2 separate regions of the Homo sapiens genome follow, and region 1 is linked to region 2. Evidence: fine-mapped expression QTL. Tissue or cell type: whole blood. Region 2 holds a variant in brackets; the other region holds the start of a gene. All regions are shown on one strand. Distances are from middle to middle.

The links. PIP is the estimated chance that this variant, and not a neighbour inherited with it, causes the effect.
Region 1: MAN2C1 starts here. The variant in region 2 is fine-mapped to the expression of MAN2C1 in whole blood (INTERVAL, PIP above 0.99).

Annotation. Positions count from the first base shown.
Region 1 is chr15:75,365,143-75,373,245 of GRCh38, reverse strand. MAN2C1 (mannosidase alpha class 2C member 1) reads left to right here and starts at 4,639. Exons shown (of 26, transcript NM_006715.4): 1 at 4,639-4,763; 2 at 5,048-5,173; 3 at 5,612-5,735; 4 at 6,654-6,724. The coding sequence starts at 4,663. SIN3A (SIN3 transcription regulator family member A) reads left to right here. Exons shown (of 21, transcript NM_001145358.2): 21 at 1,037-3,867. The coding sequence ends at 1,267. RefSeq lists enhancers at 4,464-4,758, 4,443-4,762, 4,334-4,866 and a silencer at 4,893-4,972.
Region 2 is chr15:75,458,923-75,467,025 of GRCh38, reverse strand. It overlaps PTPN9 (protein tyrosine phosphatase non-receptor type 9), which reads left to right. Exons shown (of 13, transcript NM_002833.4): 13 at 1-3,775. Among named protein-coding and RNA genes, the nearest start is that of SIN3A, 11 kb to the right of the region's middle. RefSeq lists an enhancer at 6,044-6,338. The variant T/C (reference allele first, on the strand shown) is at 3,716.

The DNA of each region.
Region 1 (8,103 bases), 94 kb after region 2:
CCACCACACCTGGCTCATTTTTTTTGCTATGTGTTGTGTGTCTGCCTGTCTCTGATTCACATTATTTGGGACACTGGGCAACACCAGTTTTGTCTTTGTATCTCTTCTAGTATCCTTGCATGTGGACACCAATAAATTTTTATTGAATGTGTTGGTGGGAACAGAACCCCCTGCAGAACATCTGCCAAGCCTGGACTCTGCTTCCCAGGGTGGGGTAACACAGTGGAGGGAGAGTGGTTTTAAGCCCTTTGCTTTGCACTGTCTGGCTTAGAGGTGGATCTCCATGCTGATAGAAGTGATCAATGGCTCACTGGGTCCTACCCAGGATACATTAGAATCAGCTGGATTGCTGGTTTAAAATGCACATTGGTAAACCAAGGAAATGTGGGTTTTGGGGGTTTTGGGTTTTTTTTTTTTTTTTTTTTGGAGACAGGGTTTGGCTCTGTCATCTAGGCTGGGGTGCGGTGGTGCGATCTTGGCTCACTGCAGCCTCCACCTCCTGGCTCAAGCGATCCTCCCACTTCAGCCTACCAAGTAGCTGGGACTACAGGTGTGTGCCACCACGCCCAGTTATTATTTGTATTTTTGTAGAGATGGGGTTTTGCCATGTTGCCCAGGCTGGTCTCAAACTCCTGAGCTCAAGCGAACTGCCTGCCTCAGCCTCCCAGAGTACTAGGATTACAGGCATGAGTCACTGCACCTGGTCAGAAATGTGTATTTTTTAACACATTCCCTCGGTTATACTAACGCATGCTAAAATTGAGAACAGCGAGCTTTTTCAGCCCAGAGCCTGTGTTCGCATTTCTTTGGAGGCTTTATGGATTTTCATGCCCTCACATGTTCTATGTTCTTACCTCTTTAACTTCTCTTTAAACAGAGAATCCTTTTTTTTTTCTTTTAAGAAAAAAACAGTGGTATCTAAGACTTGAGCCCACATCTTTCCTTTGCTCCTTTAGAAGAAAATTAGGCTTTGTATTTGAAGGGCTCTTTTTTGGTTCTGCTTCATTTAATAAAATTTTTTTTTTCTGTTTTGCAGTCCCATGAGCGTGTAAGCAAGCGTCTACATCAGAGATTCCAGGCCTGGGTAGATAAATGGACCAAGGAGCATGTGCCCCGTGAAATGGCAGCAGAGACCAGCAAGTGGCTCATGGGTGAGGGGCTGGAGGGCCTGGTGCCCTGTACCACCACCTGTGATACAGAGACCCTGCATTTTGTGAGCATTAACAAGTATCGTGTCAAATACGGCACAGTATTCAAAGCCCCTTAACTGCAAAGCCAGAGCAGATAACTTGGGGTGTGTGTGGGGATGTGTGTGTGGGCCTATGCACTCACACACTGAAGAAACAAGGAAGATGCCTTTCAAGCCTCACTGGGCCTCTCTGGGACATGGCCACCTGACCTGTGTGTGGCTGGTGCAGCCTGGCACCAAGTGGGCTACCTGTTAGGAACATGAATACCTTACAAAGCTGAAGCTGGAACTTTTCCCAAAGGGTTTTGGGTATAGCCTGCCCTGGAGGGGAAGGAAGTCCATGCAAGCAAAGACATGCAGTTTGCTTGCACACACCAGCAGAGCTAAGACTGGAGTCTCCTGTGGCCTAACTTTCAATGAGGGAACCGGATGCTGTTCACACTTTGACTGGATGGAGATGCATTTACAAAACAGACTGGAGAAGGACTTAATACTCAGATGGATTGGAACTATCATGGTCACTGCTCCTCTCCCCTCCCCACAAAAGGAAAAAAAAGCTGGATTTGATTTTTTTTTTCTGGTCACTCGAGCACATCTAAGATCACCCATTAGGTTTTATCTGGGACCTGCAGTTTGGCTTTGGGATTGATCATCTTGTGGATTTTATTCCTGACGATTCCCTTGCTGCCTACCCTTTTCTCTCCTCTGGTTCTCAACCTCAACGAGTTCAAATCAGTTGTCCTTTTTAGCTCCCGTGGAACTGTTTTGTATCTGCCTCTTTACTAGTCTACCTTAGTGCCATCCACCAGCTTTACTCTCTGACACACACACGCACACACACACACAATTTTAACTTGTTTTTTTGTACATAATGTACATACTGTCAATTTTTTATTAAAAGAAATATGCTTTGATGTGCTAGCATAACTGCTCTAGCTTCTTGTGTACCATAGTACTGTGGCTTCAGATTTAGTACCTATGAACAGATGTACAAGACATTTATTACACTTTTTACCAAAGGGAGTTACCATTGTAGTACTTTTGTGTAAAACTTGTCTTCCCCTTTGCCCCCAACTTTTTTTTTTTTTTTTTTGTAAATAAATAAAGCTTGGTTCTTACTTAAGGAATAAACTCTCAACCCACGTCCCTTGTCCTCACCAGAAAATACTGTGAAGCAGGGATTTTGACTTCAGTTCCTTATCCAGGGTAGAAACAGGATTTTGCTTAAAATACTTGTTACTTGTCCCAAATCAAAATATTCCAAAATCTTAGAATACTTAAGTCTTTTAGTACGTGTTTTTTTCCCTTGTTCAAATAATCTGAAAATATTTTATATTTGGGTAAGTTGTCAAGCTATGTAGTTTGTATTTCTATATATTTTTTCTTATTCACATTGGTGATGGATGGGGGTGAGCAACTTAAATACCAAACCAGTGTTTGAAAAAAAAGTGTGCATAAGGCATGTGGTATACCTTATAAATGGAGTTGGGAGGGAGAGAATTTGAAATGGGATACCTATTTTTTTAATTACATAAATTTAAACTAGCAGACATTTAAACATGAATGATTAGGATTTTTCTATGTGGTTAACCTGGACTTTCTGAACAAAGACCAACTGAGCCCCTCCCAGTACTCTGGTGGATTTTTCTTCAGCAACCATTACGCAAGTCTTAGTTGTAACCAGCAATGTTCTGTGTGTTTTATGTTTGCTTTTTAGTTAAAAATCACCACCACCACCAAAAAGAAAAACAAAATTTTTTGGCTCCTGGATTTTCAAAACACATGGTAGACCTCTCTGATTTTAGGCTTTTATTGTTTAAAGACAGTGTCTCGCTTTATGACCCACACTGGAGTGCAGTGCCACGATCATAGCTCACTGCAGGCTTGACCTCCCAGGCTCAAGCAGTCCTCCCACCTCGGCCTCCTGAGTAGCTGCATGCCACCACGCCCAGCTAATTTTTTAACTTTTTGTAGAGACAGGGTCTTGCTATGCTGCCCAGGTTGGTCTCAAACTCCTGGCCTCAAGCTGTCCTCCCACCTCGGCCTCGCAAAGTGCTGAGATTACAGGTGTGAGCCACCCTGGCCTGATTTTAGGCTTTTTTTGTACTGGGGAGAAGAGACTGTGAGCCAAAGTGTAGGGTGCCAAAAAGAGCTTTGTGGGATGAGATTTTAGGGCAAAGCTGGGGCAGTGTCTGACTTGGCGGTGGTCATGTGTACTGATTTAGGGGAAAGATCTTGAGGTTTTCTCAAATAATTCACCTATCCCCGTGTTCCCTCAAGAAAGGTCATGTTGACCTGGAACCATAGGGGAAATTGGTGGGGTGTGATCAGGGTCAGCCCCAGCTGTTGCTGCCCCTGCAGTGTTTTGTCCAGAGCACTTGCCTGCAGGTCAGGATAGGATTTCAAGGCCAGTTCAGGAGAAAGTCCCAACCCACCAGTGCAACCAACAAAAGAGTAAGTTTTACCTACAGCCTGGGTTTTCACAAGTAGCATTTTTATTCCTCCTGCTGTCTGACATCTGAGCTCCAAGCTCTAAACCCAACCTGTATTATATGCAGCAGCAGGTTATCTTTGTTTTAAATCACATTTGTTATTCTGTACTTAGTCACCTTTCCGTGTGATCTGCATTTGAAATGTTGTAAACTTGGTCAGTATTTCCATTAAAATATCAGGGCTAATCTTGTGTATTTTTTTTTGTTCCTAATGATTTTATAGACAAAGACTCTTGGCAACCCCAGGAGAAAAAAAATAAAGCTGTCAGTGGAGTACTAGGGATGAGAATGAAACTGGAGGTCTGTTTCTGGTATTATGGCTTCCCGGGACTCTACAGTCCTGTATGGTGAAATACATTTTTCCATTGGGATCGTCAATGCCATGACTGTTCTGCCACCTCAAACTCCAGAGTTTCTGGTGATGTGCAAGAGTTAGCAATATACATTCAGTAAAGCGTGTAATCGAGTAAGTCGTAGTAACTTGGGCGTAAAGCTCTACCACCCTGCTCACTAACACCCTGATCTCCGTCCGGTATGAAAACACCTATTCCGGGTAGTCTGGCTCCACGTTAAGCAAACACCACTTTCCGTGTTCACCGACAGCTAGAGCCAGAGGTCTCCCGGTTGCTGCTTCTGAGGCTGGGTCTGCAGCAGCTGAGGCTCCCGCCTGTCTTGCCGAATGGCCTAAGTCTCTGTCTTGAGACTTTCGAGAGTTCTAATCGTCAAATTTCCCATTTTATTTTGAGATTTTCCCTGCGGCCCACTATTTCGGACAACATAGGAGAGCCTCAAAAACAGTTTCTAGCTTCCAACTCGGCTCAAAGTTCAGACAGCAGCTGGGCTTCCGAGAGCCGCCGGTGTTCCAAGAAAAGCTGCCCGGGACTGGGAGGCGCCCTCTGGACGCCGGAACCTTTGGTTTCCTGCCGTGGAGCGGAACGGTAGCGCCAGGGGCCTTCCGGAAAGAGGAGCGAGAGCCCGGCGATGGCGGCTGCGCCGGCCTTGAAGCACTGGCGCACCACGCTGGAGCGGGTGGAGAAGTTCGTGTCGCCGCTCTACTTTACCGACTGTAACCTCCGCGGCAGGTGTGGCCCCTGGTCCCCCGCAGCCGGCCGACCGCAACCGTGCGCCTCAAGCTTTCCTTCCGGGGAGAAACCTAAGCTGCAGCCACCCGGGCCGCGGGACAAAGTGCCCGCCGCGGGCAGGGCAGGGGCCGGGGAGGAGGGGGTAGGGAATGGACTGTGCCGCGGAGCGGCCAGGCAGCCCTCTTGGCGGAGGATCCAGGGAAAGTGCGGCCCCACCGGCCAGCTGGCCCCCAGGCGGAAACGGGGCGGCCTCCAGCATGTGCCCACCGGCCCGTCCCACGCAGGCTTTTTGGGGCCAGCTGCCCTGTGGCTGTGCTCTCCAGCTTCCTGACGCCGGAGAGACTTCCCTACCAGGAGGCAGTCCAGCGGGACTTCCGCCCCGCGCAGGTCGGCGACAGCTTCGGACCCACGTAGGTAACGCCCAGCGGGTGGGCGGGGCCACAGGCCTAGGGGAAGTCCCAACCCAGCTCCCAGCCACACCTTCGTTGTCTGCCCTCTGCCGTAGACAACTACGTGGGATCGAGCAGCACCCTCTGCTGGGAGCAGCACCCTCTGCTGGGAACAGCTCTCTGGTCCCTGGGTCTTCAGGGGATGGTTTTCATTCCCACGTGGCCGCCTCTGGACATCCCTTAGGAAGGGCACCCTAGGGATCACGAACCTTTGACGCCTCTGCCTGTTTCCCTCATCTTGCTTCTCACCTTGTTGCTCCTTTCTTGTGACTCAAAGCTGAGTACCTTGTGACACTGCAGATGCTTGGAGAGTTTCAAGCCCCTGCCGACACTTTATCCAAGGAAGGATATCAGGATAGGACTTCTACCTCTAGGCCTATCACAACAGCTCTCTTGCAGATGGTGGACCTGCTGGTTCCGGGTGGAGCTGACCATCCCAGAGGCATGGGTGGGCCAGGAAGTTCACCTTTGCTGGGAAAGTGATGGAGAAGGTCTGGTGTGGCGTGATGGAGAACCTGTCCAGGTGAGGAACCCTGTCCTAGGGCCAGGTATGGCCACATTTCAGCCCTGAAATGACTACAGCCCTTCTTCTGTGGACTCTGGAGAAGCCACAGCTGAGTTGCTCTGCCCACAGGGTGGTATCAGGATTTCAGGACTAGGGAAGTTGCCACTTGGGCATCTGTGCAATTGGTCCTTAGTTTTTATTGTGTATAATACAAACTTATAGGAAAACATTTCAAACAGTTCTAGATAAAGTAATGGATCTCTCCTTATCACCCATCCCATTCCCCAGCTATAACCACTGTTAAGTGTCTTATTCATGCTCCACCCTTATCAGGTTTAGTCCTTATACTCCTATCTAGTAGGTCTTTATACCCATTTACAAATTAAGAAACAGATGTGTAGTTGACTCACTCAGGTTCACACAGCTTCTATTTCAAATTGGACTGACTCTCAATCTGGGGTTAAGACTGTTCTTCCTGGCTACAAGAAGGCAGAGACCATCCCTTCCTCCCTTCACTGGCTCAGCAAATATCTCCTGGTGTCCATTCTGGGCCATACCCTTAAGCACTAGGGTGTAGCAGGGAATGAGGCAAACCTGCCCCTGACTTCACGGAGTTTCTTTCCCGGTATTTATTTAGGGGTGCAGAGGCCACCAGAATCCACACTCAGGCTGCCTAACCCCTTCCCAGGGCCCTTCCCATAAGACCATGGGTTTGCCACTGGTAAACAGGGGCTATTTGACGGTCATGGTGCTGGCTGCCATGGGAGTTGGGGCATCTACTGCCAAGGGTCCCTGATTTGCCAATCTTGGCCCTGCTTGGGAGAGAGGACCCAGAGCTGGGAACCAGATGGAGGGGCCTGACTCCCCATGGCTTACACTTTACCTGAACTGTCCAAAAGCCTCAAGCCTTGTCTCTCTCACTCCCCTCCCTACTAGGGTTTAACCAAAGAGGGTGAGAAGACCAGCTATGTCCTGACTGACAGGCTGGGGGAAAGAGACCCCCGAAGGTGAGTCCCTGTGCCCTGGTTGACCAGTGCTGTCAGGGAGGGAGTACCAGTGAGCAAGGAGGAGCTGAGGCCCAGAGTGATCTCATAAGCCCGCCTCTGCTCTAGCACAATCATCCTCACATCTCATTGTTTGCTTTTAAAAGCATGATTTTTTCCTAACCATAAAAATAATGGGCTGGGTGCAGTGACCCACACTACCCTGGGAGGCTGAGTGGGAGGATCACCTGAGCCCAGGAGGATGAGGCTGCAGTGAGCCATGATCACACCGCTGCACTGCAGCCTGGGCAACAGAGTGAGACCTTGTCTCAAAAATAATAGCAATGTTTGCCTGTGGTAAATACAGGAAAGCACAAAGAAGTAAATAACTACCGTTATTCCACTCCCTAGAATAGAGATGAACATTATTAACATCTCAGCATTCATGTTCTTTTTTTTGAGACGAAGTCTCCCTCTGTCGCCGATGCTGGAGTACAGTAGCACGATCGCAGCTCACTGTACCTTCTGCCTCCCAGGTTCAAGCGATTCTCATGCCTCAGCTTCCCGAGTAGCAGGGATTACAGGTGTGTGCCACCACGTCCAGCTATTTTTTTTTTATTTTTGGTAGAGAAAGGGTTTCACCGTGTTGGCCAGGCTACTCTCAAATTCTTGACCTCAGGTTATCCGCCCCTCTCAGCTTCCCAAAATGCTGGAATTACAGGCGTGAGCCACCGCACCTGGCCCAGTATTCATGTTCTTGGTGTATCTTTCCGGCATAGTTTTTTTTGTTTTTTCGGGGGGGTTTTTTTGGATTTTTTTGAGACGGAGTTTCGCTTTTGTTACCCAGGCTGGAGTGCAATGGCACGATCTCGGCTCACTGCGACCGCCGCCTCCCAGGTTCAAGCAATTCTCCTGCCTCAGCCTCCCTACTAGCTGAGATTACAGGTGCCCACCACCATGCCCAGCTAATTTTTTGTATTTTTAGTAGAGACGGGGTTTGACTCTGTTGGCCAGGCTGGTCTCAAACTGCTGACCTCAGGCTATCCACTTGCCTGAGTCTCCCAAAGTGCTGGGATTACAGGAATGAGCCACCGTGCCCGGCTCATCCCGGTATAGTTTTTACTAGTTAAGATTGTATCCTGACTTCTTACATTCCATGTTATAACATGGACATTTTATGACACCATTAAAAACACTTCTTAGACATTATGAATGTATTTTATATAGATTGACACTGTTTCAGATGCTTTCAGACACTGGGAGTATGGTGGTGAATAAAATAGCCCTTGCCAACAAAGGGAGACAGATTCACTCATATAATTACAAAACTGAGGGCTCTGGAAGGAAATCCTGGGTACTCCACTGAGGAATTTGCTCTAGACTTAGCAGCGAAGTGGAGTCAG
Region 2 (8,103 bases):
TTCAGTATCTGAGACTTTGAGTTCTGACACTATGAGTTCACCTTGTCTGTAGGCCATGGCCCTATCTCTGGACAGAGGGACCAGCACCAGTTCAGTGCTTGAGATGTGCTAAGCACTATGCTAGGTGCTTTTCCCCCACCCTGCCTCATTCAAACCTCACAACAATTCAGTGAGATATTATCTTCTCTCCCTTCTCCTGTGCACCCCTTTCTCATTTCTATATAGATGAGGAAGGTGAGGTCCAGAGGGTTACAGTGATTTGCTCTAAAACGAGCTCAAGTTGGTCTGCTTACAAAGCCTGTGGTCTCTTCACTGCATGGAAGATGGAGATCTTGTGTTTGGAGAACAGAGGTTTGTTTAGCTCTCCTTTCAGAGTAAAAAAAGTTCTTAAATTCCAGGTTGTTGTTCTTGTGCCCATGCTTCATGTAGTAGACGCGAAGGGTGACAGGGTTGGTGACTGACTGTCCTAGCTAGGACCTCCTGATGTAGGGTCCTCATGTCTGCAGCGTACCAAAGGGGTTATCATTCTCCCCAGGAGACTCCATATCTATGGGTACATGGTCTTTGTGAGAAGATCTTGAGTCATTTGCATTTATCTCTTAGAAAGAAAGGAACCAGAAGCTTTGTACATGGAAGACCACTCCCCATATCATACCTGTTGGCTGTTGATGGCCTGCCCAGTTGGGGCAGTTGTGGCTGGGAAATATTGGGGTGTTCTTAATAATAGTCATAGCAGCCAATTTACTGGATGCTCACTCTATTCCAGGCACTGTTCAGAGTAATTTCTAGGTATCATCTCATTCACCCTCAACAACCTTTTGAGGTAGGTATTGACAGAAGAAAAAAATTGAGAGACAGGAATGTTAATTTGCTACAGCCAGGATCCCAGACCATCTGACTCCAAAGTATCTTCTTTCACCTCTTACACTAGACTTCCTCTAAGGATCCATCTTCTGATCTGCCAATAAATTTTTATCGAGTTTCTTACCATAATCAGGAGCTCAAGTGTAGAGCAGAAGATTAATCTAGTTCCTTCTCCAGATGAGCCTCCATTCTCTTGGGAGTGCACAAACATAAGAAGTGAACAGAGATTCTTGGAAATCTGAGAAACCAGAGAGGTCAGGGGTTTGGTGGAACATGTAAGAAATGGGATTAATGATAAACGGCCTGGAGGAGGTAACTTTAAATTGTCATTTATTTGAAGAGGCTGTAACCCGACTGCCCTGTGAATTTAAGGTTATGCATGAGTTCCTCATTGCATATCTGAAGACTGGTGAGGTTATCTATCACTTCAGCTCCATAAAATGCTGATTTCTGGGCCCATCCAGTAGGTTGTTAGTGAGTGACAGGATTATCCAGGTTTGGGAACCATAGATTTAGTTCATGTTTCTGACCCTATAGAGAGTTAACAAATTGATGTCTCCTAAATTTTCAGTAAAACTCAGAGGAACTCCTCCCACTGCCATTGTTTGTAGCTTTTACCAGCGTGAACCTACCTGTGTTAGGTGTTAAAGGAGGAGGTAAAGGAAAGGGAAGGCAGAGACGCAACCCAGAATCTGTTTGGCAAGTCAGGGTTCTCATACAGGAGACTTAGTGAACAAAGCAAGAGAAAATGCTCAGGGTCCAAGTGCAGTGGCTTTATGCCTGTAATCCCAGTACTTTGGAAGGCCGAGGTGGGCAGATCACCTGAGGTCAGGAGTTTGAGACCAGCCTGACCAATATGATGAAACCCCATCTCTACTAAAAATATAAAAATTACCCGGGTGTGGTGGTATGTGCTTGTAATCCCAGCTACTCGGGAGGCTGAAATGGGAGAATCACTTGAATCTGGGAGGCAGAGGTTGCAATGAGCCGAGATCGCGCCATTGCACTCTAGCCTGGGCAACAAGAGTAAAACTCCATCTCAAAAAAAATAAATAAATAAAAAAGAAAGACAGTGTTCAGGAAAGAAGAAAACACTGAGCTAAAGCAGGCTTCTGCTTCTGATTTGATGGCTGTTTGTTTCACCTTTCTCTAACATTCCCATGCTATATAATTTTTCAAACATGAGATAATCCCTGTGTCCTTTTTCCCATTGCTCCCTTCATCTTGCCCATCCTCATTGGCTAGGATGGGACTCCTGAGACGAAGGGTGCCCCAGCATCCTCAGCCTCGGAGGCCCACCCTTATCAGTCTTCATGTGACAGTATGCAGGTAAATGACAGAGTAGGACTTGTTCTTGGGAGAATGGACTATTTAGCATCATAGCCCTAGGGAAATTTGGTTCCTTCCCTGAAAGGAATGCTTCCTGTCTCTTGGGACAGACAGACACACATACAAAAACTTTTATAAATCAGAGACCTAGAGGGAATTGGGCCAAGAGGCATTGGCCAAGTAGAAAAGCTTCTCTAGAGTGACCCAGCTCTTTTGTGGTTTTGAGGTCTTACCACTGAACCAAACCCAAGTCCTAGGTTCCCTCTGTAAAAGAAGGGGCTACACTAGATGATCCTACCATGGGTCCTCTGACTGTCAGGGTCCAGTTCTTTGTTAGACAGTGCAAACACCCATAGAGGAGCTATTAGGCCTTTACTTGGGTTGAGTTGGCTCCCACTAGCACTCCCCACTTTTCATTTTTTTTACTTTCAGAGACAGAGTCTCACTCTGTTGCCTAGGTTAGAGGGGAGTGGCATGATCATGGCTCACTGCAGTCTCAACAACTGGGCTCAAGCAGGAACCCAGCTTTTTTTTTTTTTCTCTCTCTCTCTCTAGAGACAGGATCTCACTATGTTGCCCAGGCTGGTCTCGAACTCCAGCCTCAAGCAATCCTCCTGCCTCGGCCTCCCAAAGTGAGAGGATTACAGGCATGGGCCACCACACCCAGCCTCTCCAGTTTTAGTGTGTTTTCAGAGTCTCTTCTTTCAAGCTGCTGCTACTTCCCTAGCTTCCCTCAGTTCTCTTCCCCCTTGGCCTTCCAATTGGAGGAAAAGCAGGTCAGGTCTCTGTCATCTCCAAGACCAGCCTATAGGCCTTTAAAGTTTCCCTGTTTCTTAATGTGGGGTCTACAGGGTTTCTCAGAGGCAAAGCATGAACAGACCAAGGGTCCTATAGCTCCCAACCTAGTCCTTAGATTTCTCTCTGGCCTTGGTTACTCCCACAAACCACTGTGAGCCTACCAAGGGCAGGAATGGAAATGCCCATCAGCCTGGGAACCATCTTTTTCTCTTAGGAGGTATCCGCCCTATAGTTACCTTTACACAACACTTGTGAATATCAAGTGTTCTAGACTGCACTGTTCATAATTGACTACAGAGAAGACTAGGATCTTCTCCACAAATAGAAATATATCACTTTTACTTGGAGATGTTTTCTTGGGGGAAAAAAAATCTAGCACCTTGAAACCTGTTACAATGTTTAAATCTCCCTTCTTTACCTTGGCTGTCATAAAATCCTCCTGTTTGAGCTAAATGTGGCCTGCTGAAGTCTTAAATGCCCATATTTTTCAGGCTAAGGCCATGGTGGACATAGCTAACTCCACTAGAATCCTAGCTGGGGGTGTTGGAAAAAACGGTACAGTGCCCCTCTCAGACTCCAGGCTCACGTCCGTCTCCCCTCCCCGCACATTATAATCTACTACTTCTCTAATGCTGCTGCGTAGTTTGTCTTAAAGCCTCAAGACTGGCCAGATGTGCACCTGAGTAAAGGTCAGCCATTTCATCTGGGGGCTCTTTCTTGACTT[T/C]TAATGAATTTTCTTCTGTGAAAAAATGTATTTTTAATAAAAAATTTTCTGTGGCCAGCATCCAGTGGAAGTCTGGAGTCTGATGTGCAGGGCAGATACTGGTCTGGAGATGTCAGTTTAGGACTTAGTTAGACAGAAGCAATGAGCCTTGAAGTGAGAATGAGGAAGGCAAGAGAGGAGATACGTTTGGATGTCACCAACATTTAGGTAATGGGCGGAGGAAGAAAAGCTGCTGAAGGATACTAATGAACAGGCAGAGGTAACTGAGCACAAAGCCAGGCTGCTTTGTCACAGGCTGCTGAGAGGTAGGTAGTGGCTGGGACGAATGAACAAGATCTGAAATGTGGGTTCATTAGAAGTCTTCGAAGGGACTATGTGGCTGTTAGGGAGGCTGCATGAGAGAGATGTGAAGGAATAGACTGCAGTGCCCAGGCTGTCCTCACTTAAACCAAAACAAGGCCCACCTTGATCTCTTACACATTAGGCTTCTGAATAAGATTTTCTTTGAACAAAGGACCTTGCTGGGTGCAGTGGCTCAGGCCTGTAATCCCAGTGCTTTGGGGGGCTAAGGTGGGAGGATCACTTGAGGCCAGGAGTTTCAGACCAACCTGAGCAACATGGCAAAACCCCGTCTCTAAAAAAATAAATAAAAATAATAAATTCTCAAATGGCAAGCTATTCTATTTTTAAAAAGCAGTAACAAAGGAACTCGTTGCTTTAAAAAAAAAAAAAAAAACGTCAGGCCAGGCGCAGTGGCTCACACCTGTAATCCCAGCACCTTGGGAGGCCAAGGCGGGTGGATCACTTGAGGTCGGGAGTTTGAGACCAGCCTGACCAACACAGAGAAACCCCATCTCTCCTAAAAATACAAAATTAGCCGGGTATGGTGGCGCAAGCCTGTAATCCTAGCTACTGGGGAGGTTGAGGCAGAAGAATCGCTTGAACCCAGGAGACGGAGGTTTCGGTGAGCGGAGATCGCGCCATTGCACTCCAGCCTGGGCAAGAAGAGCGAAACTCTGTCTCAAAAAAAAAAAAAAAAAAGCCACCAAACAACTGGTAAAGAGAAGGAAACACTTTGAAAACATAAAGCCAGGTAAACTGAGGAACATGCTGAGTGACCCAGAAGGGTAAACTAATGCTCAGCCAGGGGAAACATTTCAAGGCAGTGAGTAGCAGTCATAAAAATTCCTTCAAACATTCCGAGCCTCCCAGGAGAATGGCGTGAAACCGGGAAGCTGAGCTTGCAGTGAGCTGAGATCGCGCCACTGCACTCCAGCCTGGATGACAGAGCGAGACTCCGTCTCAAAGAAAAAAAAAAAATTCCGAGCCTCCAAGGCCACCCAGAAATCAGAAATTACGGAATATATACCATCTAAACCTGGTTGCAAGAGAAATGGAGTTTCTTCACATCATGGGATTATTTGGCCCTCTAGGCCTGCTCCAGGGCTCATTGCTCAATCGGACTTTGCATTTGAATGGCCAGGAGAAGAGGGAGGTAGGGATGAGATAAAGGAGGGGAAAAAGATATGAGAACTCTTGACTGAATGCTAGGGATACTTAATTTTTTTTTTTTTTTTTTGAGACAGAGTCTCTGTCGCCCAGGCTGGAGTGCAGTGGCATGATCTCGGATCACTGCAACCTCCGGCTCCCCGGCTCAAGTGATTCTCCTGCCTCAGCCTCCCAAGTAGCTGGGACTACAGGCGCGTGCCACCATGCCCGGCTAATTTTTTTGTATTTTTAGTAGAGACGGGGTTTCACTGTGTTAGCCAGGATAGTCTTGATCTGACTTCGTGATCCAAAGTGTTGGGATTACAGGCGTGAGCCACCACGCCCGGCAGGCATACTTAATTTTAAATCTCACATCTTCCCACCGAAGTAGGTATTCTGATTCTTAGATTACAGATAAAGAAACTGAAAAGATAAATGATTTGCCAAAATCATCTTGCCTTGAACCTAGAAGATGCTTTGGGTTGTGGGTCCCTGGGGAGCCAGCCTCATATCCTCCTTACCTGGATATTACTGAGAGTCTTAGCCCTCAGAGCTTGTGTGGATAGGGTGCTGGCACTGATATCCTTGGCAGAGTCACTGAAGTGCAGGCCCTAAATGTCTCTCAGTCACCACCTACCATAAGTGCCCTAAAGAACTTTGAATGAGTCCTTTTTGTGAAAGAGAGAGGGTGTATGTGAGACACCTGTGAGATTGAGGGTGTCAGGAGGTGTGATAGATTTGAGTTTATGTGTTGCGAGTTTAGGTCTTCTGTGTATGTATGTATGTATGTGCATCAGACAAATGTTGCTTTTCTGGATAATTTTCTGGAAACGGCCAGAAATCATTTAGAATTGTCTGAGGATAAACTGATCTTTAAGTTAGGGAGGTGAGGAGTGTGGAGCAACAGGGGAGTCAGGCTGTTTTTCTCCAGGCCCCAACCTGGGTCACTGGCCGGAGTGCACAAAGACAGCGTGTGGGAGTGGAGGCAAAGCTTAGACTTTGGACCCAGACTTCCCTTAAGCTATTTGACTTGAGCAAGTCACTCTACTGCTGTTAGCCTCAGTTTGCTCATCTATAACTAAGGATAATAATCCCTAACTCACAAACTCTACAAGAATTTGTTGTTGTTGTTGTTTGAGACAGGGTCTTGCTCTGTCTCCCAGGCTCAAGTGCAGCGGTGTGATTACAGCTAACAGCAGTCTCAACCTCCCAGGCTCAGGTGACCTTCCTGCCTCAGCCTCTTGAGTAGCTGGGACCACAGGGACATGCCACCATGCCCAACTAAATTTGTTTTTATTTTTTGTAGAGACAGTCTCACTGTGTTGCCCAGGCTGGTCTATGAGACTTTTCACATAAAACGGGCCTCCAGGAATCAGAACCTGACCTACCAGTGTGATTTCTCCTAGGAGGGCCCTTACCCAAATCCACTTAATTTTATTTTAATTATTATCATTATTATTATTTTTACCTATACCAGTTGGTTCACAAAGTCCACTTAGTTTTGTCTTCACTGATAGGGTAGTCAGGGGAGTAGCATGGATGTAATCCCTCAGTGCAGCTGGCAGCTGGAGGGACAATGTCACCAAATCAAGCGTTCTCTTTCCCAAAGAATGTGGGACTTGCCGTGCTGTCCAGGTGTCAACATACTGAGTGAGAAACCATCACTGGACCCCTTCCAAAGGGCCCCCTGTATCTGACTGCAGTGAGCTCTGGGGACTCAGAGGTGCATCGAAGTGTCTGTCCTCAAGAAACTCAGTCTGCCAAGTGTTCAGGAGGAGGTCTCCACCAGGGTGGCACACATAGGACCATGGGCAGTGTCAGCAAAGCCTGGTTCTCTGAGTGGAGGTAACTGTTGCAGTTGCAAATCCTCCATGAGTAACTGCATCCACAGCACAACACGTGCTGCCTAGTATCACTGTCAAATGCTGGGTCTTTGGCTTCCACAGCAGCTCAGAACCTTACCAGGTGATAAAGCACACTTTATCATCACATTTGATCCTCATAACAGGGCAAGGATTGCTATGTTATCCTCTTATATAGGAGAGGAAGCTGATCCACAGATAAGAAGGGACTAAGTGGGAACCAGGGGACTCAACTTCCAGACTAGTTCTTTCTGCTCCACCAATCTGCCTCATCTCACTTTGACACAGTATCTGTTATGCCTTCAGCTAGAGCCCCTTAAGAAATTAAGAAATAGAGCAGGAATTTGAGATGGGGATCCAGCCATCAGGGGATTGGTTCTTTTTTTTTTTTTTTTTCTTTGAGATGGAGTTTCACTCTTCCCCACCCAGGCTGGAGTGAGATGGCATGATCTCGGCTCATTGCAACTTCTGCCTCCCGGGTTCAAGTGATTCTCCTGCCTCAGCCTCCTGAGTAGCTGGGATTATAGGCGCCCACTACCACGCCCAGCTAATTTTTCTATTTTTAGTAGAGACGGGGTTTTGCCATGTTAGCCAGGCTGGTCTTGGACTCCTGACCTCAGGTGATCCAACCACCTGGGCCTCCCAAAGTACTAGGATTACAGGTGTGAGGCACTGCACCCGACTGGGTTCTTTTTGAGACTCTGTCTCAAAAAAAACTCTCAAAGAGTTTCACTCTTCTGCCCAGGCTGGAGTGAAGTGGCGCGATCTAGGCTCACTGCAACCTCCGCCTCCCAGGTTCAAACAATTCTCCTGCCTCAGCCTCCCAACTAGCTGGGACTGTAGGCATGTTGCCACCATGGACAGCTAATTTTTTTTTTTTTTTGAGACAAAGTTTTGCTCTTGTCACCCAGGCTGGAGTGCAGTGATGTGATCTCGGTTCACTGCAACCTCCACCTCCCAGGATCAAGCGATTCTCCTGCCTCAGCCTCCCGAGTAGCTCGGACTGTAGGCACATGCAACCACACACAGCTAATTTTT